Linked DNA regions of Homo sapiens: region 1 is linked to region 2. The links come from fine-mapping of genetic effects on gene expression. A gene starts in region 2. The other region holds a variant in brackets. All regions are shown on one strand. Distances are between the middles of the regions.

Region 1 (9,437 bases), 220 kb after region 2:
GGGGTGTGGATGCAGACATGGTCTTTGGCAAGGCTCAGTGCAGGCTGCAGAGTCCAGTTCTGGGTTCTGTCTGAGTGGGCCGCTTTATAAGAGAGGACGAAGTTTCTGGCAAAAGTGGTCTTTAATGCATGGCTCTACTCACTTGATGGGTGTTAGAGTTGAGTGGGGTTTGGCAGGACCACGAGCGTGTCTGGCCTCAATTCGAGGGGGTGCAGCGAGGGGAGGTAGGGGACCTGGGAGAAGCTGGAACCAGAGTCACTCAATGGTCCACTGAGGTCCAGACGTACCCCATAAGCAAACTCAGAACGAAGCAGGCCTTGGCGTGGAGGCACAGGCCCAGCTGGTGACCGCCCCTCACATGCTGGGCCTTTTACAGGATGCCCATGCCCAGTTGCATGGAGGGTGGAGTTGTTAGGCACAGGCAGTGGTGATGCTGTTTATCCTAAGTCACGTGTCCATGCTCAGTAGGGTCATTGTCCATTGGGAGCATCTTTTTCTATCCCAAATCCTTCTACCCCAACCTCTCCCGGAGTACCAGGGTCCCCAAAAGAGAGATAAACCATGATCTATGTCATATCAGGAGATTGCTCGCCTCCTATGACCAAAAGGGTCTTGTCGGCTGTTGCGTTCCTTTGCATTGCACGAGGTGTTCAGGAAATTTTTGCCTTGTAACTTACATACCATCTCATGAATCACCAGGCCTGTAGTCCTCACTTTATAGACAGTGTATCAGGCTAGTGTCTGTGTGTGAAAGAGAAAGCAAACCAGTGAGCCAGCCTGGGCACAAGAGGCCAACGGGGAGCGGAACATCTAATCTATTTACTCCTGTCCGTGGGTCCTGGAGTGACTGTTTCAGCTGCAGACACAGACCCATGATGAAGGTGAGAGCAGACCAGCCAAGCGCTCCTGGCAGAAACGACTCTGAAAACACGCACCTGGGTAGGGCGATGGAGCCTCTGCCTTCACAGGGACTCCACACATCATGGTGGGGGGACATTGTCCTTGGAGAAAATCCCAGGGTGGCTCTCAGAGACTTGGGGAGCCTTGTGGTTTTTCTTAGAATTTATTTGGCTTAAAATATCAGTATGTAAATGTCAGTGACAGTATCTAACTTCTGTTTTTCAGAAAAAAAGAGAAACATGCCTTTCATGTGGGCCATCTGTGGGCACCCCTTTGTGGGTTTTCCGCATGAGCTTCAGGGGTGCTGAGCAGGCAGGGGCTCTCCACTTGTGTTTGCTCGGCAGCAGACCTGGCCTGTCCTGTGTGCTGCTTTTTGGCAGTCCAGGTTCAGGAGCTTAAGAGAGGAACGTTTATAGAAAGGAAATCGATGAGCTGTAACCTTCTATAGAAAGGTAGAAATAGAACGCCTGATTTTCTGCTCTCTTTTTTCTTCTTTTGGTGCTTAAGAGTTCAGAGAAAGCCCCAGGAAGCCTGGCACCCAGGATGCTTTGCAATGAGGCGCTTCTCAGGGCTTGTTTTTTTGCTCCAGTGTAACTCTCCACCCCGTTTGCTGAGATGCTGGTGAGACCAGGGCACTCAGCTGAGGTCCAAAGACTGGGTGTGAAGGCGTAGACCAGCAGAATCAAAGAAGTAGTGCGGCACCCCTGAACCAGAATGCGGTGTGCCCCGGACCCCCGGCCCTGAGTCAGAGACGCCCCACTGCAAATAGTGATGTGACCTCCGACCCCCAAAGGGCTCAGGTGACTCTGGCTCCTGGTCACCTGCAGTTTGGGATCTTTCCAGTGGGACCTGGCGGTTTGGGATTTGGCCTCAGCTGTTATTTACGGTTTCGATTTCTGCCCCTGTGGCTGATGCATTAAGCGATTTCCCTCCGTGTTTTTGTTTGGGGTGTCTGGTTCTCACATCTGGGGAGTCTGTCATGTGCTGTTTGAATTTCCCCTTCATTGTGGAGCTCTGAGCATTTGTCCTGGGCTATCACTCACAACAACATGTACCTAAAAACTAGAAAGCTTTCTGGTCGGAATCCTGAAAGTCGGCTGCCCCAAGCAGCCTTCAGTGTTCATAGACTTGGTGGTAGGAGAAGAGCTTTCATTCTTCGAAGCAGTCGTAAGTTTATCGGTAACACCCAGGGGAGGAGGTGTTGAGGGAGTAGGAATGACGATCTCGTATTGAGGACTTTTCCATGTGATATTGGACAGAGGGAATGTCTTACCCAGCTGACCTCAGCGAAGTCAGTCCTCGGAATCAAAGACAGATGCAGACAGGCCTCTTGAAGATACTGTGCTGTGTTTTTGTTGCTGCTGTTTTCAATTTATGCTGAACATTAGTTAACCCACTAAGAATAATGTGCCAGGCTTACGGGTGGGTGTGAACTTGAACACACTCACATGGTCTGGGGTGCTGAGGGAAGGTTGGCAAAGGAAAAGTGCACATTTTTTTTTTTGCATGTCAGGCTTTTCTTTATTATTTTCTCATAGAGAAGACAAGATAAATTTGATGAACTTTCTTATCATAGCATAGGATAAGATTTTGTAGCAATGAAAAGCAATAGCAAATGATAACTCCTGAGCCTCCATTCATGTAGATTATATGGCATCAAATACTTGGAGTGAATTTATTGTTAATTTTTAGATGAACAGAATAATTTAATTTCAGAGCCCATATTGAAATTATTGAACTAATTCAAAAAATATCTATAGAGCACCTACTCTTGCCAGTTATGGTTGTATCTGCCATGGATACAGCAGCAAACAGAATGAAGTCCCTGATTTCCTGCTGCTTATGTCTTAGTGGGGGTGGATGGTGAACAAATAAGCCAATTACGGAATAATCCTATACTAATAATAAGACAAGTTATCCATGAGAGGCCAGAGAATGAAGGGAGGAATGTGCTGTGTACAGAGGATACTCGCAGAGACCTTTCTGATACGGACTTTGGAGTAAAGACCCGGATGGGGAGGGATGGTCTGGAAGGGTTTCCCCAGGAAGAACAATCCTAAGAGAAGAACAGAGCAGAGGAAAGGCCTGATCTGACCTGTTGAAAGGATCGCCCTGGCGGTTGTTGGGAGGTGAGGCTCTCAGAGCGTGAGGTGGAAGACAGGGAAGCCCCTGCCGGCAGGGTGAGAATAGACCCAGAGCTGCCCAGCGTTTCGGCCATGTGCTCTCACCAGGCATCTGGATAAGACAGTTTCAGGGACATTGTGGACACAGAAAAGCCCCATTGGATTGGGTTCCAGAGAGGACTGAAGAAGAGGAAAAGGCGCTGTTGAGTGTAGACTCTTCTTAAGGATTTTACTGTAAAAGAGCTGAGAAATGAGGTGGGGGAATGTGTTAGTTCGTTTTCACATTGGTGATCAAGACATACCTGAGACTGGGCAATTTATAAAGGAAAAGAGGTTTAAGGGACTCACAGATCCACATGGCTGGGGAGGCCTCACAATCATGGCAGACGGCAAAAGGCACGTCTTACATGGCAGCAGACGAGAGAATGGGAGCCAAGCAAAAAGGGGAACTCCTTATAAAACCATCAGATCTCATGAGACTTATTCACTACCACGAGAACATTATGGGGGAAACCACCCCTACAATTCAATTACCTCCCACAAGGTTCCTCCCACAACACATGGGAATTATGGGAGCTACAATTCAAGGTGAGATTTGGGTGGGGTCACAGCCAAACCATATCAGTGGAGGAAGATGAGACACCTAAGGTCCTATTAGTTTGGGGGCAGGGGCAGGCTCCCTGCTACCCTCTCTGATCAAGCACATAATGAACTGAACTCCAGTGTTTTGCAAAGCACAATAATTCAGTCTAACTGTGGCTAGTCATAGCAGCTGTCCACTTAGTTATTTTCATTAGGTAACTATAATACATGACATTGTCATGTGCACAGAAATTATTCAGCTCACAATTCCAAAGTTTTATAGAGAGCTTGTTGAATTTGGAGACGGATGATGTGGCATCAAGAAAAGCCAAGGGAAAAACATTCAATATCCGATGCTTTTCATAATTTAATTGCTGCCTGCTCCCAGGCTGAATTGAACTCCAGAAGGCATTTTCTTTTCGCAGTCACAAAATGCATCTCGATATGCAGCAAATAACATGCAGCTCTGGGGTTTTCTCAGCGAAACCCAATGAAAAGAATCTGTTGAAATTTTATTGTCTGTTGATAAACACTGTGTGCGTTATTGCAGTCAGTACTAATTAGATTTATTTTTAAACTGAGTTTCTGTAAATTGTACTGACAGTAAACAATAAAATCAGATGATTATTCTAATACAGAAAACACAAACGCAACAAAACTGCCGGTACCGCCTTGTCATGGCTTTTTAGCACCTTGGCAAGCCACATTCTCTTGGTGGGTGGCTTTGAGGCCCTTGGAACATAGCAAGATGTTACCCAGGCAGAGAAAAGGCCGTCGCCGGGCTGACCGCGTAGTGTAAAGTATTTTAAGAGTGAATCCTTAGTTACAACTTGAGAAAGCTTTGTTGTTTTCAAATAAATCAGGGTGCAAACCAAGCTGGTTACGTTCCAGAACACAACAGACCCGTGAAAATTGTGACAAGCAAATTCCATCCACATTCTCCCATCTCCTTCCATTTATTTTGTAATAGTCTCCATTAAAAGATAGTGCGTGTTTAGGCACTAGTGCCAGACTCCCATCTCACTCAGGTGTATCTCTTGCTCTCCCAACGGTATTTTGCTCTGAAATCCAAAATGTGAGCTCCATGCCTGGCGTGCTCCTTCCAACTTCCGCACCCGGACGGCCTGCAGGAGGCATGGGCACTGCGTGCTCCCCCGTCTTGTTCCTGCTACTGTCACTCAGTGGAGCTTCACAGAGGATCATTTCATGAAACTCCACACCATAGGCCTCTGCTTTGCACTCTCACGTTCTGTAAGGTCTTTATCCAAACAGCAGCAGCCCAGGAATGTGCCAGAACTCATCAATGTTAATCATTAATGATGATTTGCTTTTTGAAAGGTGAGCACCTTAGGGGTCTGAGGTCCTTGTCCCTTTCATTAGAGAAACTCATTGAGGTTAACAGGAACATCGTATCTCCCCAGGGT[C/T]AGCAGCTGGAACTCTTAGAAATGCCTGCTCTTTCTGAGCCCCATGGTAGACACATGCTTGTTTTCTTGGACTTGGGAGTGAGGGGTGGATGGGGGAAATATGATACTGGATGGCGCTGGATATTCCAGACTCTCTTTTAAAATATTCACATTTCAGAGGGTTGCCCTAGTATTAAATGTCCATGAATTGAGCCTGCAAGAGGAGAGTTTCACACAATTTGTTACCCTCCTTGCAAGCATGTGAAGCCTCTCCAGAAGTGTTGGCATGAGTAGATTGTCTCCGTTTCATTAGTTCCTTATGAAATCTGTAAAAATAGAATGAAATTCTCAGTAGCCTATCCAACTGAAGAGTAATCCTGTTGAAGTACAATAAATTGCTCTTTGGTGAAAATGGTTCAGCTTTTCTGCAACTAGAAGAGTTAATGGGAGTCTGCCACCCCCTCTAGAGAGTGGTTCACACTTTTCTAGCCAGAGAGATTGTATTTTACCACGCTTTTTGTCCATGGATGGTGAAACAACTCAGTGTTAGCCTGGCAAGTGTTCTATCAGACTTAATCACGTTTCTTCACTTCATGTGGGTGTAGTGGCGAGCTGTTCCTAAATGTCAGTGGTGTGGTTTTCAAAGCATCCTTGTGTTAGTAGGAATGAATGCAATTGCAGCTCAGTCTGCTTATTTTTTTCCCCAAAAGGTTCTTAGCATGATAATCAACGCAGCCTACAAGCCTGGAAGGGTATTAAGAGAATTACAGCTGGTAGAAGATCCCCACTGGAATTTCCAGGAAGAGACGCTGAAGGCCAAGTAAGTGTTTTCAATTCTGGAAAGCAAGGGTTTTTGTAATACTTCCCCATGCTACTTTGAACCTTGCCACTTCTCTTTGTGACACAGCCCTGAGAAATGGAACAAACTGAAGGACGTTCGTTCTGCAGTTCTATGGGCGACACGTAAATTTCTTGGCATTTTTGCCATACAGCGTTGCCTTAAGCCTTAGGATTCCTAAGGTGAAGTAGAGATTTCCTTAACTAATATTTTATTATGCTAAACATTCAGCATCATAAAAACTTGGTATGTTTCAGGACCAATAGGTTATTTGAGCAAAAGGGGGAAAATTGTAAAGAGGATATCCCTCATCATTATTATACTATGTTCATAAACAGCTCTTCATTTTTGATATTATATAGACTATGCTAAATGCAAATGCTCTCTTTTCTGGCAGTTGACAGTTCTCAAAGATAAAAGGAACCCGTGCATGTTTGGTCTGGGTTAAGTAAATGGCAGCAAAATCTGGGTTGGCGTGGAGTCAAGTAACTTTCTTTTATTTGGAAATAGGCTAATTGGAAAGGTGACATTTTTGCTTTCTTTAGGTTTCTTGACCTCTGAAATTGAGAGCAGGAGCCGTATCAATGTACTTGAACTTGGTTGTTTAGGCACATAGAAAAAGATCCGTTTCTAAGATAATTTTATGTTGAATAATTGTTTAGAGTGCTTGAGAGGACTTTTAATATTCATCTATGGGTTTCAAATAGAATAGGTTTTACTAGTTGACTTCTTAATGGTCATTGAGATGTAACATTTGAGAAATGATGTTTTTTTAAAAGAGTAAAACAGTTTTCAGTGGCTAGAGGATATCTAAGCCTCCTTTAGAGAAGGCACCTGCCCTATTCATAGTGAAAATTGAGAAATATGAAATAATTTGTATGATCGGTAATATTTTCCTCTATAGTTAACTTATACTAGTACTGTGACTGAAGATGTTTAGAGATTGTGCCACACTCAACATTCATTGCCAGCAATCCACTTAGCATTCCTGGTGTCATTTTTGAACAGCTCTGGGGTTTTAGATTCAGTAAAACTTATTTATGGTCTAATCATAATCTGCCAAATCACCAAAGTGGAAGAGAATATATGTAAATAAGAAGAGGGTTTATTTGCAGAAAATGGCAGGCCAATTAACGATGCTGCTACATTTCATCATTTCCTTCTTTCTCAAGAAATATTTAAGTGAGCTTCACCTATAGCTCAGAGAAAAACATGTTTTTCTAATATTTCATATTTTTCTGCTTTAAAGAGATCATTAGCAGTAGTGGCACATTTTCTTATAAGTTTGTAGTAGTAGTGGGGGCAGAAAACATAAGCAAGTGTTTATAATGGAGAAATCCTTCTTATTTTAAAACTTTTCTGCAAAATTCAATACAGTCCACGTACACCTAATGGACACAGATATAATAAAAGTACAAAAATCTTAGCTCCCATTAAAACCTTCCCTGCCTCTAAATAAGCCAGAAACTCGCTCCCGCTCCACAGTGAGAGGAAGTTCATTTTGCAAGTGTTTGCACTAGTTTTCATGTTACCAAGTCGATCAGAGCTTTTTATTAAATCCAGCCTGATACAATCAAAACAGACATGGTGAAACCCAGCTCTACTGAATTGTAAAGGCAGCATATTACCTATTATATCAAATATGACAAAAAGTTCCATGGCAAACTCTTACACAGCAACTTCTAATGAGAAAATGTCTGTCTGAACTGGGTTTCAACTGTGCGAGATCATAGCAGCGTCTCAAAGCAGCTGCTAATGATGACAGCTTTACAGTCAGCGGGAGCTCTCCTGCTCTGATACTGTGTGTTGAGTCACCTCTTCCCTTCTGATGTGAAATGACAACTTTTTAGATCTTGACAACTTTGCTATTTTCTTTGGTGCAAATGGGAGGAGAGAGAGCTGGCATCTTCCCATTTAGCTGAAAGGAAGGCATGTTTTCTGTCATGAATAAATTAACGTACAAGAGGAGAGACTCACATTCAAGACATTTGGTCCAGGCCAGGCGTGGTGGCTCATGACTGTAATCCCTGCACTTTGGGAAGCTGAAGCAGCAAATCGCTTGAGTCCAGGAATTCAAGACCAGCCTGGACAACATAGTAAGACCCTGTCTCTACAACAAATAAAATATTTTTATATATATATATATGTGTGTGTGTGTGTGTGTGTGTGTGTGTGTGTGTATATATAGTATGTATGTATGTGTATATGTATGTATATATATGTCATATATACATATGACATTCAGTCCTCTTGGTTGATTATGGGAGCTGTTGTACACAATTATAAAGACTGTTTTCAGGAAGAGAGGATGTGAGATTATCCCTAGGGCAGTGTGATTGCTCTCATTTGGCATCTAGGATTTCTGGTTGTTTTTTCCACCTCCTAAGAGTAAAGACCCATTTACTTGAGAGGATGAAGGTGTCTTTGTAGAGGTTTTGACTTGTAAATATAACGAAAACTTACACTGTTACCTACAATTGTCTCTGGGTGATTTTTCCCCTATTTATCCAACAACCGTACCTTTTATAGAAAGAAATTATTGCAATATTTGAACTTGTGAGGAGTCTATCATTATTACCTTCAACATGTATTGAAAAGCAAAAATTTGCTAGCTTTTATGCCAGGGAAAAAAAATGGCTTCTCATGTAGTTCATTTCTGTTCTGGAAGAGAAAATTTCTTTCTTGCCAATGAATTTAAATATGCTCAATTTACCTGCATTGTTTTGAATTACAGGAGGAGGAATTAGGCTATATCTTAGAGGGGTAAGGAAAAAAAAAGCCCTCCACCTCTCTGCATCTAGAGACATTTAAATATGTTTTTCAGCATGTTACAGAATCTTCTTGAGGGAAAATAAAAAGACTGTCTTAACTCTTCTTTGAATGGCTTTTGTGATCATCTTTATAAAAGCCAGGCAGAAGCTTAATAATTCTTCTAGTCCTGTGTTATAGTTATTCAGAATATTTAAAGAGGAAATATCCTGGTAGGATTTCACGTGAGTTAGAGCTCACTGTCACTTATCAGAGGGAAGGAGATAAAGTCAGATCTTCACTGTTAGGTGCGTCATGCTCAGCTCTGTGGAAATGTTGTGGTTTCTTTTTTTTCATAAGCAGTGGTTAATTTTGTGTGTGCTTTTACTTATTTGACTTTAATTTTTGTCCTTTTACGCAAGCATTTGTCTTATGAACTGTCGCAGGTAACATTTGGCTATAAAGTGATTTATGTAAAAAAAGGATTCCCTAACTGAGAGACTTCACCGGAAAAGGTTTTGTTTGTTCATTTGTTAATTTTGTTTACCTTGCGCAAGTGTATGTAGTTTGCTGTCCTGAAAACGCACGAGGTGAACTTCGCGTTAAGCAAAGCCATGAACCAGTCTATTTGAAGGGAAGACTGCATTTCTGTGTATGTGTGTACCTAAATTCACTGGATCACGGTGTGGCGTGTCTGATTCAAACAGGCCAGCTTAAGACATTCTGGAGGAGCAGTAGTCTCCTTGGGATAAACATACATGCCCATGTGTTGCAGAGTTCCCATTACTTAAAGGCAAGAAGGAAGAAAGAAATTTCTGAGGAGTTTGGGTGTCCTAAGGCTGA
Region 2 (9,371 bases):
ACACCTGGCTAATTTTTTTTTTTTTTGTATTTTTAGTAGAGATGGGGTTTCACTGTGTTCCCTGGGCTGGTCTCGAACTCCTGAACTCAGGCAATCCACCTGCCTTGGCCTCCCAAAGTGCTAAGATTACAGGTATGAGCCATCACGCCCGGCCTTCATGTACTTTTAAAAATATGCCCTGTACCCTATTATTTTTTTCTCTTGTTGTCAAGGAAGCTTGAAATTCCTTCAAATTATACAAGAGTCAATCGCAATAGTGTGTTTCTGAAATTTCTATAAATGTATGAGAAGGTGCTCTCTTAGGTGGTGATATTTTTTGAACCAATACACATCACTACACTCACTGAGAACTCTAGTTATTTTCACAAGCCATCTCAATAACCCCAGGCTTTTCTCAGAAGGACTGTCATAGATACACTCACCAGAGCCCCCACACTTTTATGGGCAACACAAAACTCATACAGTAAATGCAAAAACACAATAATAATCAAAAGAAGGCAAAAATATGACCTGAATGGTACCTTCACTGAAGGGCAGTGAGGCAAAGAAGGCCCTAATACCCTTTCCCTACAAATTCCTTTACTTAATTCTTTTTTATCTTCTGTGACCTCAGAATTTGATTGCTATATCAAATTGGCAGAATACCATATAAAGCAATTTATGGCTTTGAGGTGGGGTAGATTGCTTAGCACTGTTTAGGTCTGAAAGGACCTCACAGAACACCTAGTCCAATCCCCTCATTTTACCCAAGAGGAAAGAACGGCTCAGAGAGGTCACTGGACTTACAGAGGTCACACAGATAATTAGCGATGAAGCAGTGACTGAGGTCACTGGACTCCCAATACATTAACCATTAAGTGCTTTAATTGGGGATAGAAGATAAGGAAAAAAGGTGAAAAAATAAAAGACAGAGTGTATTTAGATTTACTCTTTGTGACCTTAGGATCCTGATGGAAAAATACTATCTTATGTAGCCTAAGAAAAAACAAGTTTTGGTTTCAAGGCTCCAGTAAAGAGAAGGTTGTACAAATTCTTCAAATATTTGGTTCTGGCCTCTTTTTCTCCTCCTTCTGCTTTCCTGTTAGGCTAGTATGTCTAATGGTTCATTAGGGAGTCTCTATATTAAGAAAGCATAATGGTTTATCTTCTATTTTCTTTGGTTCATTTCCTTTTCCCAGTGGGAAGTGATAACTTAAACATGGACTAGGTATGTACAAATTGAACATTTTTCTTGGGTACGACTAATGCAACAAGATTTAAGTAATCACATGTCCTAAATATAAAGAGAATAAATAGTACACATATAATTTTTCAACTCCTCTGCAATAGTTTTTGTGATGTAATGCTTAGGAATATAAGGAAAATGAGACAAAAACTTTTCAATTGTTATTTTATATTTCTAATTTGTGCTGTATCATTAGACAAATGGAATAGCATCTAAATATTTTACAATTAACCAATTAGCCCCATTTATGTTAAAGAATTCCAAAGTCCCTGTGAAGGGATAACTTGATCTGTAGAGTGATGAAATTCATGGCTTAAGCAAAGTTTAGGAGTGAAATAATATCTATAGTTAGTGTGATCAAAGGCTTATTTTGGCCAAGATTTTTAGTAAATATTAACAGTATAGAGAAAAATCTTGTGTTGATAATGAGATTTTCATGACCCTGTTTGAGCTGGAGTGCATAAGCCTTCTTTACTTTAAAAAAGCAGTCACAATTTTTGTCAGTGCGTTATCCTTTGCTGACTATGTGGAATTTTTTCCTACCTTTAATTGATTTAGGGTGCAACCTACATCTGGGTATATATCCCTAAAGTGTCTGGTTCTGAAATAAAAATGAAAGTGGAAAGGTATTGAAGTGGGATGAAGGGGCCACTTGAATTGCCTCAGGGAATCTCCTAACCAATTTTCATTTGCCTCATTGGTGCCCTTGGATAAAAGAGAATGGAGGTCGGTTGCAGAAAAGAAAATCAAGGAATCTTCAAAAAGTCACGTGCAAAAAGCAACACAAAAATAGGAGGGAAGGAGTTTTTTTTTACAATAACAATGCCACCTTTGTGTGCTGCGACTTCCTGATTATATTTCTTAATCACGATAGGTAACCCTCCCCCAAAATCACCATTTTGTGGACCCAGGAGCAAAATTATACGGGGTCTACGTACCCAAAACATTAAAAAAATTCAACTCCTTCGGAGTAACCAGGTAAGATAATGAACGCAGTCATACACTGTTTGGGATCAGGTGTTCTTCTGCATTTGCTTTTATTTGGATGAAAGAATGTTTCGTGCACAATGATGACCTAAAACTGGTAAACAAGCCTGGAGAGAGCGCGGTGGCTGGTTGCAGCTCACGTCTCCACGACTCCTGCAGAAGGAAATTACGTTCTCCCCTTCCCCCCCGCACCCCTACCCCTACCCCAAGCCCCCGGGAAGCCCTGCGCTGGCACCAGGGCAAGCGCCTGTCGGCTCCCGGGAGCTAAGCGAGGCCGCGCGGTCTGGGACGCAAATGGGAGGGAGCAGCCGCTGTCGCCCTGCGGGGCCAGGGCCACTGGGTAGGCGCAGCGCGGGCCAAGAGTGGGAGGCTCAGGGCAGGGGATCCGCACTCGGGGCCATTCCTGCCGCGGCGCGCCCTGCGCTTCAGCAGTGCACAGGGTGGGGACCCCTCGAGGACAGTGGTGCGCCGACGGGTCTCTCGGCCCCTCCCTTTCCACAGGCCCCGCTGTGTGGTGAAGGAGCCAGAAGAGGCGACTTGGGTGTTGAGACCCGGGGCCAAACCGTGGAGAGTGTCTGGAGCCCACACTCCAGATTTCTGGACGCCGCAGTCAGTCCAGCAGGTTCTACCTGGAGCCGCCTCGGGGCTCAACCGGGAGGCAGCGGGGTGCAGGCGAGAGGGTTAATGCGCCCGGTTCGGTTGGTTTGAGGAGTCTCTGCTTTCAGCGACCCACAGGGCAGAGAGCCCAGGGCTCCGGCTTGATGTCCCCAACAGCTGGGGACTGGAGAGCTGGAGGGGTCGCAGACTCAGGCTAGAGTTTAAAGTGCGCCGCGCGGCGAGTCGCTGGACTCTTCTGGGTCTCACGTGGCTCCTGTGTCACATGGAGTGACAGGCCGGCGGAAGGCGCTTTAGTCGTCGCCCAGCGTTCTCCAAGGTGTAAGGAGGCAGGATCTTCCCATACTGGCGGCGCAGGGGGCCTCACGGCTGCGGACGCCCGCCCTGGATCTCTCAGCTCGGCAGATCCTTTGGGTGGAGAGGCGCTCTCCAGGGTCGCGGCGAAGGAGAGCGGCTTCTCGGCACGTCCCTCCGTATTTCTTCTAGATCAGCTCCGGCCCCACCGTCCAGGAGAGGGCCCGCCTGAGGACCTCTGTCTGTGCCGCGCGTGGTCAGCCCCGGTCCCCTCACTCCATGGCTGGCCCCTAGCCCTTCAGAGCGGACACCTCTCCTTAGGGATGCAGGGCGAGGAAGGGCGGGTGGAGCTGCGAACCCACGGGGACCTGGAGGACCTCTTGGCCCCCTGGAGAGGGGTACTATGAGAGGGATTCATGGGACACAGATTTGGGGGACTGGGTAATTTTACCCCCTTTGGCAACCATAAAAACCCTGAGCAAACGTGTCCATTCGCTATTTCGCAGAAATATACAATGCAGGCCCACACAGGCATCTCTGCGAGGCCCCCTAGTTAAGGGCGCAGCGTTCTTCGGAAGCTCTTGGTCTTGCTACCAGGGCGTCACCGGCTTTTCCGCACTGGGGACATTTCGTTTGGGCTCTGCGCAGCCGTTGCACCTAAGGCCCTGGGAGCTCCGCGTTCCTCCCCAGGCGCCCGGGACAAAGTGCCCGAGGGCTCCGCAGACGTCCAGCCCTGCCCGGGGCTCACGGCCGCCGGGGCTCTCCAACGGACCGTCGAGGGCCACGTTTTGCTGGGGTGTGAGCGACGATTCTTTTCCCGCCCTATGAGGCCCGCCACTAGCTAGGTGCCCCATGAGACGCCGTGGCGAGCACGGCTACCTGGCAGCTCGCCCGGGCAGCCCCAACTTAATTTCCTGCCCCTCGGGGCACCTTTCCCTCGAATAGCTCTCCTCGGCCCCTCCAGCCCTGCCCAAGGGGCCTGGAAATGTTCGCAGCTTCAAGAAAGGCTCTATTTAAGCACAGGATGGGGTGGGGCGGGCGGGGCCAAGATTGCCCTGGGGATTGAATTTATCTCCGCTCCCAGCGATCCCCGGCGGATAAAGCGCAAGTTTGTGCACACGGTCGACTGAGCCATTGGAAACCCAGCTCACGAACCGCAGCCAGGGAAACGGGAGTTTGCCCAGTTGTCCTTGCGGAGGGGTGTGCGGAAACGCCCGCGATGGGAACTTTCTGCAGATCATGTATGGAGGGAGCTCACAAAAAGGAGGAAGGGGAGCGCGGTGGGGAGGAGGCCGCGTGGGCGTGGAAGGTCCCAGGGTCCTGGGGGTGCCCGCCTGCTTAGGCGCAGGGAATGGCGCGGAGCTGGCTGGGGAAGGAGCCGATCACGTCCCGCAGGCTAATTGGCTTAAGAAATTTTGCAAGCGCTGGAAAAGGTCGTTGAAGGAGTTCGCTGCACGCGCACGCACACACATACACACACACACAAAATCTTAAAAAAAAAAAAAAAAAAAAAAAAAAAAGAGCGCCGAGCATGCGCACAGAGAGGATGCCATATTGGAATGAGCTGTAGTGGGAGCCGGAGGACCGGAGCGGGCGCGCGAGGGAGGCGGCGGGCGGGGAGCGAGCGGGCAAGGGCGGGCGAGCGAGCAAGCGAGCGAGGCCGGTGCCCTCCCGGGCGGCGACCGGGGCCTGGGTCCACGCCGAGGGCAGGACGAACTTCACCAGGTAGGACGCCGCGCCGGCTGCTGTCCCCGGCGCCCAGGCTGGCCGGAGAGCAGCCCTTCGGCCCGCAGGTTGAGTGCGCTGGTCAGGGGCTTTTTCCAGCCTAGGAAAAAAAAGGAAAAAAAAAAAAAGGAAGGAAGCCTGAGGGAGCTGGGGTTGGAGGTGGCGGGTGGGGGAAGGCTGGGGAGGGTGCAGGGGAGCGAAAGAGAAGGGCAGGAGAAGAAAGCGACTGCACTTGAGCGAAGCTTCAAACTCCTCTGTGCGCTCCAGGTTGTCATTTTTGCTTCCCGGGTCCCCTTCGCCTGCGTCTCCGGGCTCGGAAAAGCCGAGCCGTGCGGGAGTCCGTCCGGAGTTGCAAAGTGTCCTCCTTCCCCGGGCGCAGCCTGTCCCCTCCCGCCGCCCACCTTCCTCGTTTCTGCACTCATTTTAGCGACGCAGCCGCCGCTGCTACCTACCCCGCGCTCCCGCGTCTCCTCCGCGCTGGGGTCTCCCCTTTCTTTTGGTTTGGGTGGGAGAAAAAGATGGTGAGGACGGGGAATCGGAGACCGGCATGGGGGTAAAAATCGTGCAGACATTCGGAATCGCTCCCTTGGAAACATTTGCCTGAGCAACTGAAATAAAATTGGCAGTAGTAGTTTTGGAGCGTGCTCCAGCGAGGATGGTCTTTTTGTTCATTATTTTCTCTTTAAAGTAATATCCTGTCACTTAGGGGCTTTCCGGTTGTCTCCTCTTATTCGACCCCCTTTCAAAATTGCTGACTTGAGCTGGTTCTGGAGTTTATTTTTTAATATGCGTGCGTGGGTATGTGTATGTGTGTGTATGTTTTGCAGAAATCCGCCAAAATGCAACTGTAGGAACTGCGAGATGTATTTATTGATTTTGACCAGGGGCGGTGGGAAGGGGCTGGAGGGAGCTGGGGGATCCTGGAGGGTGGGAAGTGGCTGATTCTCGGTGGCCGGACACTCATCCAGAGCCTGATCCGTACTCGTGTTTTCTTGGAAGCGCCACAACTGCGGGGAAGGAGTCTTTAGAAACCGTGCCAGTTTCAATATGGCGGGCTAAGGTGGCTTTTAAAAACTGAAAATAAAGGTTTTGAGGTGGGAAAAAACCCAGCTGAAGTTTCCACCCCTTAGTTTCGACTCTCTTTGGCTACCCCAGGAAGCGCTTTAGCGAATTAAGTGGGGAAAAAAAGAAGGAATGGGCTGTCCGGTTTTTTTTTTCCGTGGTTAGAGTCTGTGTGTCAAGTCCATTGCTAGGGGGGAAAGGGATGGAGAAGTGCCCCTGGCCCGGACCAGGGCACCGAAACGCAACTGTCGTGTGTGCCTGTGGATTAGTGTGCAGGCCTGCGTGTGCGCAGTTTTTTTGGGTGTGTGTGTCAAAGAGAACCACCCCGAATGTGTGTGTGCGTCTTGGAACCAGACCCTGCCATGATTTGACGTGACAAACTGCGGACACGTGGTGTAAAGTACATGAGGGCAGAGGGAGTGATTTATTTTGTCTTTCTAGGAGACGAGCTAGCTCTCGCCTTGTGTGTGCTGGATCCTGCGCGGGTAGATCCCCGAGTAGGTGGGGCGAGGAGGTGCTTATTAAAAGGACTAACTGTCCCGGGTATTGGGTGCAATCGGGCTGCAGACGCCAGCCGGATTTCGTGTGTGCAGGGGGCGCGCTGCACTTAATAGTGGGCTCCTGCTTTCCTCCACGCCGCTCTGGGGTGGGAGGTGGGGGACCGGGACCGAAGCTTGGAGAAGACCAAAGTGGTGGTGGTGGTGGTGGGGTGGGGCAGAAGGGCGGGAGCGCGCGGCTCTGGGAGACAAGCACGTAGGGTCGAGGCGAGGGGTTGCCTTCCTTACTTTTGGGTTTCGCGCTCTAGGGAAGGTGGGGGATGGGGACAGCGTTTGGGGAAGAAATTGTCCCTTGCTCGGCTTAGGAACCCTCTCGGCGCATCGGAGAGGGGCATCTTCTTGTCTTGGCGGGCATGGAGGCCGGGCAGTCGCCGGGGGATGTGAGTGGGCGGCGAAGTGCGGGGGAAAGGTCGGCGTTCCAGGGCGGGGAGGATCTGGGAGTGGAGTTCGGAGACAAAATCGGGGTCAGGCAGAGGAGCCAGAGGGAAAGCCAGCAAACGCGAGCTCGGGTGAGAGCCACCGGAATGCGGGAACGCAGCTTAGCCGGGAACAGGGTTCCCGACAGGGGTCGCCCGTGGCCAGGACGCGGCCGCTGAACAGAGGTCGCGCGGCGGTTCCTGCCCGAGGGACCTCGTGGGCGGGGGCCACACGGAGGCCGCGCACGGTCCCCGGGGCTGGCGGGGGCAGGTGGGAGGACCTCCTCCGGGCCCGCGAACCTGATCTGGCAGCGGCCAGGTGCCTGGAAGCGTTTTTAAATGATAGGGTTACAAAGACATGTTGGCCAGGTTTGTAGTTAGCGCAGCAACGTGGTTTGCAGGAGCGCAGAACGAGGCTAGACAGGGTCACTCGGACGCCGTGCTGTCAGTGGGTGGGGGCCGGGAGCAAGCGGCACTGGCTTGGAGACCCCGCGGCAGGTGACCCCTCCCACCTGGGCAGCGAGGCTGAACGATGGCGACACGCCGGCCAGGACGCGTCCGTGGCTCCTCCAGCCTGCGTTTGGGCGCGCCCTCCCGGGGCCGGCTTTCCCATGGGCCCCGCGAGGTGGGGAGCAGCCTAAAATGGCTCTGTGCTGCGAAGCTGCAGTTTCAGCCGCGAACCCCTCCCCTTGTCCTCCTGACGTCGCCGCTGACAAGCGCAATTTGCTCCAAGGCCCCGAAACCCGCGATTTTGCACGAGGCCGTGCCGTGGAAGCGGATGTACAGTTGATTACAAAGAACATTCCACAGGGTTCTCGAAGGGCCCAAGTTTTTCCTTCTGGTGGGGAGGAGGGAGGAGCCGAGACTGGGCAGGAGCCCGGCCGACCACCGCTCTGGCACCTAGGGGCTCGGGGCGCACCAGTAGCTGGGGCTGGGGACCTGGATGCGCGAAAAGCCGAGGGAGTTCCCGGGGACGCGGATGGGGACCATTCGGGGCAATAGCCACGGACACCGGTGCTCGTGGTTGATGGCGTTTGTGGTGTCCGAGAATCCCGGGACGACGCTGGAAAGCCTGGGAGACCGTTCTCAAACTTCTGGAGACCAGCTCGCAGTTTCGCTTTCGGAATTTTCAGGATCTTTGGGCCTTTAAAGTTGGGTGGGATTCCAAGAAGGCAAGGCGAGGCTCGTGGCCCTGACGATCGGCCGCCCGACTTCTCGCTCACCCCAGCCTTCTCTACCTTGTCTCCCTGAACCTTGCCGAACCGAGCCGGGTTTGGGGTTCCGGGGCCCCGCGCACCAACCCCAGCCGCGTCCTGAGGGCTCCCGCAGCACAGCCGCGGCTGATCCGAGGCCATTGGTGGGAAACCAATTTAGACGAGGCCGACCCCTCTTGGATCTGGCTCGGTTGCCGCTGCCCACCACTCTCCATCCCCCCTCCACTCTTGCACCGTAGAGAAGGGAACTGGGAGACCTACTAGCGTGTCTACACCAAGGGAAAGAACCCATGTTCCAGCAGGTCGGAGAAAAGGAGAAAACAGGCTTAAATGTGGCCTCGTTTCCTGGGGAGGCTGTTGGGGGTGGGGAGGGAGTTGAGCGGGTAAGTGGGGTGGGGGAGGGGAGAGGCGTTGTTGCTCAGCAGGAATTGTTCCCTAGGCCCGCCCTGGAGATAGGAGGTCTCCTGCTTTTTCCCTACTAAGCATTAAATTTGCACACACTCTGCTTTCTCCCTTCCATAAATAAATACCGTCTCAGATCTTATCTTTGCTCTTGCTGGGACCAAGCTGCCTGCCTGCAAGAGAGTGGGAGACACCCACGCACTTCTCCACTTCCCTCCCCCCCCGCCAACCCTCTAGGTCCCCACCAAAGAGTTTACTGCTTGCAGGACCCATTCTTGGGCCGGTGCAGAACACTGCCCCGAGCCGGGGGTCTCGCAGCCCCCATCCTGGAATAGAGAGTGGTCATCCACTCTGTTCTGATGTGTGTTGCTGTAGAAGTGCCGGTGGAGGCCTGCTGAGGTGGGAACTGTTTCCCATTTCCCATTGGGATACATCCATCCTGAACCTCAAACAGCAGGTCCTGCTGGAGATGCGTTTCAGTAATGATGGAAGTCATACATCGCAGAGTTTTTCCTCTTCCTGCGTTCTTGCAGACATTATAGACTATTTTTTTTAACATTGGTTGTTATAAATAACTGGCTTCACGATTCTTGACTTAAAAGTCAAGACTTTTAAAAAGCCAGAAAAGGTTCCTGACTCTTCCCTGTTTCGTTTTCATCATAAAGCTTTCCTGGGAGTACTAAACACTTATCCATTTTTCCATTGCTGCCCACTCTAGCTAAGGTGGCTTTTTTTTTTTTTTTTAACCACTGCCCCCAAAGGACTCCCACATTTGAGAAGAAATAGTGAGCGATGGAAGCATTGCTTTGAGCAGTAAGAAAATGAGGTTCTATGTAATTGATACAGGATACTTTTGGGATCTAAGAAGTCCGTA

The links. PIP is the estimated chance that this variant, and not a neighbour inherited with it, causes the effect.
Region 1: its variant is fine-mapped to the expression of SFMBT2 in whole blood (INTERVAL, PIP above 0.99).

Annotation. Positions count from the first base shown.
Region 1 is chr10:7,185,015-7,194,451 of GRCh38, reverse strand. SFMBT2 (Scm like with four mbt domains 2) reads left to right here. Exons shown (of 21, transcript NM_001387889.1): 16 at 5,719-5,828. It overlaps SNORD129 (small nucleolar RNA, C/D box 129), which reads left to right and starts at 7,668; the gene lies at 7,668-7,772. The variant C/T (reference allele first, on the strand shown) is at 5,030.
Region 2 is chr10:7,406,336-7,415,706 of GRCh38, reverse strand. It overlaps SFMBT2 (Scm like with four mbt domains 2), which reads left to right and starts at 4,673. Exons shown (of 21, transcript NM_001387889.1): 1 at 4,673-4,846. RefSeq lists enhancers at 2,584-3,503, 3,504-4,424, 6,776-6,855, 6,903-7,798 and silencers at 4,660-4,799, 7,016-7,355.